3 separate regions of the Homo sapiens genome follow, and all the other regions are linked to region 1. The links come from fine-mapping of genetic effects on gene expression. A gene starts in region 1. Each other region holds a variant in brackets. All regions are shown on one strand. Distances are from middle to middle.

Evidence for each region. PIP is the estimated chance that this variant, and not a neighbour inherited with it, causes the effect. A credible set is the group of variants that fine-mapping cannot tell apart.
Region 2: its variant is the best candidate, but not a certain one, in a credible set for the expression of MMP16 in tibial nerve (GTEx, PIP 0.75).
Region 3: its variant is the best candidate, but not a certain one, in a credible set for the expression of MMP16 in ileum (GTEx, PIP 0.54).

What each region holds. Positions count from the first base shown.
Region 1 is chr8:88,326,285-88,329,053 of GRCh38, reverse strand. MMP16 (matrix metallopeptidase 16) reads left to right here and starts at 1,571. Exons shown (of 10, transcript NM_005941.5): 1 at 1,571-1,979. The coding sequence starts at 1,848. LOC105375630 (a long non-coding RNA gene) reads right to left here and starts at 1,210. Exons shown (of 8, transcript XR_001745653.3): 1 at 1,156-1,210; 2 at 1-125.
Region 2 is chr8:88,359,149-88,361,917 of GRCh38, reverse strand. The region is part of intron 2 of LOC105375630 (a long non-coding RNA gene); the gene reads right to left. Among named protein-coding and RNA genes, the nearest start is that of MMP16, 33 kb to the right of the region's middle. The variant A/G (reference allele first, on the strand shown) is at 1,111.
Region 3 is chr8:88,789,073-88,791,841 of GRCh38, reverse strand. All of the region lies in intron 3 of LOC105375630 (a long non-coding RNA gene), which reads right to left. Among named protein-coding and RNA genes, the nearest start is that of MMP16, 460 kb to the right of the region's middle. The variant A/C (reference allele first, on the strand shown) is at 1,567.

The DNA of each region.
Region 1 (2,769 bases):
CCCATGAAATTTGCCTTGTCAATTCTCTCTTCCACCTCACCGAGGTAGCTGTCATACCTGGAACACTCTTTATTCTTAACCTCGCCTGCTTTTCTTTCCCGTGGGCTCCTCTTCCCCTCTGCTGGCTGCCAAGGAGAAGCACATTTACTGGCATTAGCCCCCAAACAGATGCTTGCCTCGCTCCCTTCCCCCTTCCTCTTTCAGCCAAACCATCACTTGCCAAGGGCTGGTGGTTGCTGCCCCCCCTGTCCACTGCCTCGCACTGCTACAGCTCCAGTCCTTTCTGGCAGCCTCCTCTGAAGTTCCCTGCCCGCGTTCGCCCGTGCTTCTTGCCAGCCGCCTCCCCCTCTTGCCTGCAGCTCTCCTAGCTCCCGCCAGCCTCTCCCCCGCTCGGTCTGCGAGCAGCCTCTTCCTCCCGCCCTTGCCAGCTGCTTTACTCGCCTTTCCTCAGGCTGCTTCTTCTCCTTCTTTCCCCAACCCTTCCCCTGGCTCCCGCAGCCGGTTTCTTTCCAGCGCCCCCATCCCTCTCATCGGATGTTTTGTTAACACCCAGGACCATCTCTCCCGGGTCCCACTGTGCGCGTGTGTCCACCGTTCACTTGGAAAGTGAGCGTTTTCATCCCGCTTCTGTATTTGTCTAGTCCGCCACCAAAACCCTGTGCCTACTCCTCAAGCCTGGAAGGCGGAATGTAGCTATGGTAGAGGGGATTCAGGAAGACACCAGGCCACAGGCTCGGGACCCCAACAAAGTTTTGGACGTTCGGGATTTGCTATCTCAGTCTTCCCAAACTTGGTCAGCCCCGGCCACCGACCCGAGCCACCCAGGGGCGCTCAGTGACCAGGCGCTCCTCTGATTCCCAGCGCCCCTATTCTTCCAGGGCCGCTTCCTCAGGAATGCCGACCGCTCTCCAGGACCAGGGTTGGGCCGCTCCCCAGGCCCCACTAGGGTCCGCAGCCTGAGCCCCACCCAGCTCATGGCTGGAGAGGGGCGCACTCGTTTTTAGATGCGAGGCGGCAGGGTGGGCGGGAAGAAAGAATGGAGCCGCCCAAGTTCCTGGGTGCCTGCCTCGGGGATGCGGGATGGGAGATACTGTCGAAGAGCTGTGCTCAAACCAGGGCCCTTGTCGCGGGCTGGATACCTCCGGTGCGCCCTACCGTAGTGGGGAATCCTTTATGAGCCGTCTCCTTTAAGAAGCGCGCGTGCGTGTGTGTCGGGCTGTGTGTATGCGCGCGTGTGTGTGTGTGTGTCGCGGTGTGTCTCTGTGTGTGTGTGTGTGTGTGTGTGTGTGCGCGCGCGCGCGCGCGCCAAGGGCCCCGAGAGCCAGGCAGACCCCGGGAAGGAGGAGTTATGTAGATTACGGATGAACATTCTGGAGGGGAGCGAGGAGAGGAGGGAAGGAGAAGCAGAGGCGAGAGAGTGAGGAGCGGCGGAGGCCCTTCCCGCAGGAGCTGGGGGCGGCGGCGGCGGCGGAGGAGGAGGAGGAGTAGGCAGTGCAGGAGGAGGACGCACGGGCTGGAGGCGGCGGCGGCGGCGGCGGCTGCTGCTGCTGCGGCTGCGACTAGGCTCTTTGAGCCGGAACCGCCGGTGAACTTAGGCGCCACGTTCCCGGTGACTGACCCCGGAGGATGGTGAACAGGAACTACTGCTGACCCTGTCTTCGCCGCTGCCTCTCGGGGGCTGCCGAGCGCGGGGCCCCTGTCTCCTCCCCTTGCCCGGCTGTGGGTGAACCTGCAGGCTCCTTACCCACCCGGAGGACTTTTTTTTGAAAGGAAACGAGGGAGGGAGGGAGAGGGAGAGAGGGAGAAAACGAAGGGGAGCTCGTCCATCCATTGAAGCACAGTTCACTATGATCTTACTCACATTCAGCACTGGAAGACGGTTGGATTTCGTGCATCATTCGGGGGTGTTTTTCTTGCAAACCTTGCTTTGGATTTTATGTGCTACAGTCTGCGGAACGGAGCAGTATTTCAATGTGGAGGTAAGAGTGCGAGGGCTTTCTTCCTCCCCCCGCTGCCTGGGCTGCTCCCTGAAACATTTCCTTCACTCCTGGGATCCTTGTAGCTCAGAGCAGCCTGGGTCCCAGCACGTTGTTTCCCTTCCAGCTGTGGAGACCCTGGTTCAGTTTAAGGGTGTTTTAGGTGACGGATGCGTGTGAGACCCAGAATCCGTTATCCCCGGCAGCACAAAGCACGATGCTGCGCGCTCAAAGACACAATTGTAGCCGGTCCATGCTTTTCACCCAGGGAAGAGAAGTCCTACATATAGCAACCGTGTAGCTAAATAAGGCAGCTTGAGTTTATGATGGATAAACAGCTCGGGGAAGACAGAATTAATTCCCTGGCATCATGTGCTGCCTAGGTATTGTTCCTGAAATCTTTCTCCCAGTGTTTGGTGCCTAACAAAGGAGGTTAAAAATCAAAGAATCTAGAGGAGAGCGTGGGAACACTAGATGTGTTTAATAACATTACTTTGTGATAAAACACTTGAGAATCTTTTTTTTTTTCATTTAGACATAACTTAATACACTGTAACTAGATCTGGCTACACAGAGGACATGAAATCCATCTCTTTTTAAGTGTCTTCTTTCCCCCTCCCCCGCCAATTGAAAATAAACGTGGCCCAATGTAATAGTTTTGAGGTGTGTTTTTAATTTGATTTCACACTCTCGTGGCAAAACGGGGAGGTTTTAGACTGTCATTTGCTTTACTTTGATAGCTTTGGGAACAGACGGCACAAAGCAAAAGGGAACTTAAGGATAGGGACTTGTC
Region 2 (2,769 bases), 33 kb before region 1:
CTACCACCACGCCTAGCTAATTTTTTTTTTTTTTTGTATTTTTAGTAGAGACGGGGTTTCACCATCTTGGCCAGGCTGGTCTTGAACTCCTGACCTCGTGATCCACCTGCCTCAGCCTCCCAAAGTGCTGGGATTACAGGCGTGAGCCACCACGCCCAGCAAACCTTTAGATTTTCATCTTAAAAAGATAATTCTGCTACCGTGGGGAAGTGACTAATATAAGAATGAGACGAATTATCATCAGAACAATCTCCTAGAAGTGCCTGTGGAATTTAAATGAATAGTGATGGAGACCTAAGTTAGGAAAATAACAGTGGAAAGGTAAAGGTGGACATAGATTTTTTGCAGGAGCGATTGAGGAGAGAAAAAAAACCCTCAGACCTGAGAAAAGAACTACTAGAAAGCTGTAGATACACAATTCTCAGTGCTCATACAAGGATAAAACAGTTCATGTTCTACTAGTCAGAGTAGAGAGACTTAGACCAGGCATTAATGTCTTCAGAAGCCTTAAACTTTAGTATTGGGCTTAAATTAGTGCCAGAATAAAGGCTGCTCTTGACACATCATAACAAAGTTAAGGAATGCTTAGAAAGGATCAAGTTGAAAGCCAGAGAAAAAAGCCTACATTTTATTTTTTTTTAATTAAACAAAATTCAACATCCATCAATGGCAGTATCCAACTAAAACTAACCACATATGCAAACAATCAGGAAAACATAACCAAAAACCGGGAGAAAAGTTAACCAAAAGAAAAATCAGTCAATAGAAATGGAAAAAGAAATTGATCATAAAGGATGTTAAAACAACTGTTCTCTCTCTATATATAAATATGTTAATGGAAAAGATGAACATAATAATGGGAAAATAGAAGAAATAGAAAAAAAATAAAGCTCTAAATGGAATTTTTATTGATGAAAAACATGTGAAATAAAAAATACATAGCAAGGGATTAACTATAGATTAAATACTACAGAAGAAAAGATCAGTTAACCCGATGACATAACCATATAAACAATTCCAAATATAGCACAGAAAAAAATACTGAAAAAGAATGATAAACAGAACCTCAACAAAGAGAGAAAAGATAGCTAATGGTCTAACCTAGGTATA[A/G]TTAGAGACCCAGGAAGAGAAGGTGGGGAAGAGGGTAAAAATACTTGAATAAATAATGTCCAAAACTTTTTCAAATGTGATGAAAACTCAAATTCACAGCTATAAGATCCTTGGACCCCAAGCAAAAACAAAACTGAACAACAACAACAACAAAAAAAGAAAATCACCCTAAGCCAGAAATTAGATGAAACTATTGTAAGCTGCCAGTTTATAGGACAAAGACAAGAGAATTCTTCTCAGAACAATGCAGCAAGAAAACAATGAAATATATCCTTAAATTTCTGAAAAATACAGAATATTATAACATTGATATAGAAAATTATGCAAAGGCTTTTTAGACCAAAAAAATCTAACAGAACTTAGATCTGGAAAAGTGGTACTACAAGGAAGAACTTCAGAAAAATTGTAAATGATACCAGACTGGAATTAGGATCTACATGAAGAAATAAAACCCACAAGGTAGGTTAAATATATGAGTAAACATAATCTTTTTTTTTACAAAAATGTTAGTACCTTTAATAAACAACTGACTGTTTAAAAAATGCACTGTATAATTTGTGACTTGTATATAAAATTGTATGACAAACTAACAAAGACAATGGAAAGATAAATGAAAGTACACTGTTGTGATGTTTTTATACACACATGATTGGTGTAATATTATTTCAGAGTAGGCTAAGCTAAGTTAAATATTGGCATGGCTAATGACCTGCTACGGTTTAAATATTTTTCCCTCCAAAACTCAGGTTGAAATTTTATCTCCAATGTGGCAGTATTGAGAGGTAAGGCCTTTAGGAGATGACTAGGTCATAAGGGCTCTGCCCTCATGAATGGATGAATCAATTCATGAATTAATAGATTAATGGATTATTATGGGAGCAGGACTGGTGGCTTTATAACAAGAGGAAGAAAGATCTGATCTAGCATGTTCAGCATGCCCACCATGTGATAACCTGCACAACCATGAAACTTTGCAGAGTCCACACTAGCAAGAATGCCGTCACCAGATGCAGTTCCTCAACCATGGACTTTGCAGCCCTCGTAACTGGAAGAAATAAATTCCTTTTCTTTATAAATTACTAGTTTCAGGTATTCATTATAAGCAACAAAAACCTAACTAAGACATGAACCAATAGTGGAGACAAATGATTCAATAAAACATATTCAATTCATTAATAAGTCAATGAGAAAAGAGGCAAAATGGAATGAATAACAGATTACTCAATATAAAAAGGAAAATACACAATTTTAAAAATGGGCAAAGATCTGAATAGACATTTTCCAAAGAAGATATACAAATGACCCTAAATCACACTGACTGTTGCTCAAAGTCAACAGCTATCAGGAAATGTAAATGAAAACCAAAATGAGACACCACTTCACACCAAGTAGGGTGGCTACACATATAAGAAAACGAAAAATAACAACTGTTGACAAAGATGTGCAAAAGTTGGAATCCTCATCCTCCTATACTGCTGGTGGGAATGTCAAATGGTGGAGCTGCTTTGCAAAATAGTGTGGCAGTTTATCAAAGGGTTAAACATGGAAATAGCATATGATCCAGCAATTCCACTCCTAGATATATACCCAAAAGAAATGAAAACACATGTGCCCACAAAACTTGTACACAAATATTCACAGCAGCAATATTCATACTAA
Region 3 (2,769 bases), 460 kb before region 1:
TGTTTTGTTTCTTGGGTCCTGAAATCCCTATGTCATCTGTTGTTTTTGCTATACACTTCAAAGTCTTCCCATTTTTTTTATTAAGTGTTGTCACTGCCATTTAACGAAACAAATAAGGAAAAGTATGTTTATCTTATATTTCTAGAAGTAGATATCTGATGTAACACTTTTTGGTCAGCATTATTTAGGTATGCTTTTAATGCAATAAAATATATTGAAATTTACAATTTGGTGAAATTGTATATTTGAAAAATATATGCACACACACATTTAGATATTGGTTTCAGCAGCACTGAACTTCTTAATACCAAAAATCTGTATTGGTTTACTAGGGATGTCATCACAAATTACGATAAAGCAGGTAGCTTAAAAAAAATAAATGTATCTTCTTACATTTCTGGAGGCCAGATGTCCAAAACAAGGTGTGAGCAGGGCCATAATCTCTCTTATTACAAAAGCACATGTCATTGGATTTCAGGCCCACCCTAAATTCAGTATTATTTCATATCAAGATCTTTAAATGATAGAAAAACATAAGTAATTTTTTTAAATGTTCCAAAATTTTAAAACAAACTTCTAAATAACTTCTGATTCAAAGAAGAAATCATAAAGAAAATTAGAAATATTTTGAGCTGAAAGAAAACACACAAAAAAGCCTGATATATCACACTTTTGAAATAGAGCTAAACCAGTGCTTAGATGAAAGTTTGTAACATTGAACACAAATATTAGGAACAGATAAAAGAAATTAATGGCCCAAGTTTCCACCTTAAACTAGAAAAAGAATAATAGATTATATAAAAAGTAAACAGAATGAGAGAAATAATATAGATAAGAATATAAATCAATGAAATAGAAAATGAGAAGGTAATTTTTAAAATATTTTAAAATATTGTTCTTGGAGAAGATTAATTTAAAAACAGATTTATCTGGGTTTTAGAAAACAATAGGGAAGACATGAATTATAAATATAAAAAAGGAGAGATAGTGCATCACTAGACTCCTAGAGGTAGTAAATAGACATATGATAAACAACTGTATGCCAATATATGTGATAACAGAGATAAATTGGACAAAGTCCTTGAAAGACATAAAGTTCCAAATTCACACCAATGGAAATAGATAAACAAAATAGCTTTACATGTGTGAAGGAAACTTGGTTTGTAAGTAAAAATCTTTCCACGTAAATAAGTAGTTCTAGGTAAATTCATTGATAAATTCTATTCAGTATTTCAGAAAGATATGCTCCCAATTCTACCCAGACATTTTATAAATTATTCTATGAGACAAGCATTACCCTGATATGAAATCAGGAAATAACATTACAAGAATACAAAACTCCAAATCAATATCATTTCTGAACATAGATGTAAAAATCCTTAACAAATTGAACTTAATGACATGACAATATTACACCATGATCAAGTATGGTTTACTTCAGGAGTATGAGATTGGTTTAATATTTTAAAATCAATCTATGTCTTTCACTCTATTAACAAAAGTTTTAAAAAGAAATAAAAAAGTCAAAATGATGAACTCAATAAATGTAGAAAAAACATTTAACCA[A/C]ATTTAACACCCATTTATTTTTAAAACTCTTAGCAAATTAAAAATGTGTGGGTTTTTTTCCAGAACATCTACAAAAAAAAAAAAAACTTATCAAAAACAAAACACCAGAAACTACAGTTAGCATCATACTTAATGATGAAAAATGAAATGTTTCTCTTTAGGATTGGAGATCAAAAAAAAGTGCATTTGCTTTGACATATTTTACTCAGTATCTTATTGAAAGTTTTAGACAAATGCAGTAAAAAAAAAAAGTTAAAAAAATACTTATTGGAAAGCAAAAAACAAAACTTTCTTCATTAACATTTATTCACTCTGTAGAAAGTCCTGAGACATATAAAAAAAATCTTCAAGGAGTATTAAATAAATTTAGCAAGGCTGCAGGATAAAAGGTGAACATAGAATGACCAACTGCACTTCTCTTTTTAATAATGAAAACATAGACATTAAAACATTTTAATATTATTTATAATGGCTTACAAAATATGACTTGTAAATGAATTCAAGAAGAGATAATTCTGTTTTTTTAATATATTGCTGCAGTGATTATATTTGTGTAATAATTTCTGTTCACCCTTGTGTTTGTAAAAAAAAATACATTTCTAGAAGTGGAAGCACAAGTTGAGCACATTTTAAGTTTTTGATACATTCAGCCAAAAATTCTTCCATAAATATAATTTGTTAATGTAAAATTCTGTCAGTATCTATAAGAGTGACTCTTTCTTCATACTACTGTCAACATTAGATATTAGCAGTGGCATATTTTTAATGATATTTGCAAATATGATAAGTGTTATAGGTTGTATTATGCCCCCTCAAAATTCATATGTTGGAGTCCTAAACTCCAGTACCTCAAAATGTGACCTTGCTTGAAGATAGGTTTGTTGCAGATGTAACTAGTTACGTTAAGATGATGTCATACTGTTCATACCATTTTCTTTGATACATATAATTTTAATAAACTTTATTATTGGTCTTAATAATCAATAGAGTCTCTTGGTTTAGATACAAAGTTGTTGAACTTTCTGTGATAAAAGATCATTGTATTTACATTTTTTACTTCCTTTTAGATATCAATACGTGGCACTTTCATTCAGATAACATTTGCCACAACTGTAGGTATTGATGCCTGCATTCTCCTCTGCGCATGAGCTCCATGGTGGTAGCAACTGGGTCTATCTTGTTCAGCTCTATATTTGCAGTGTA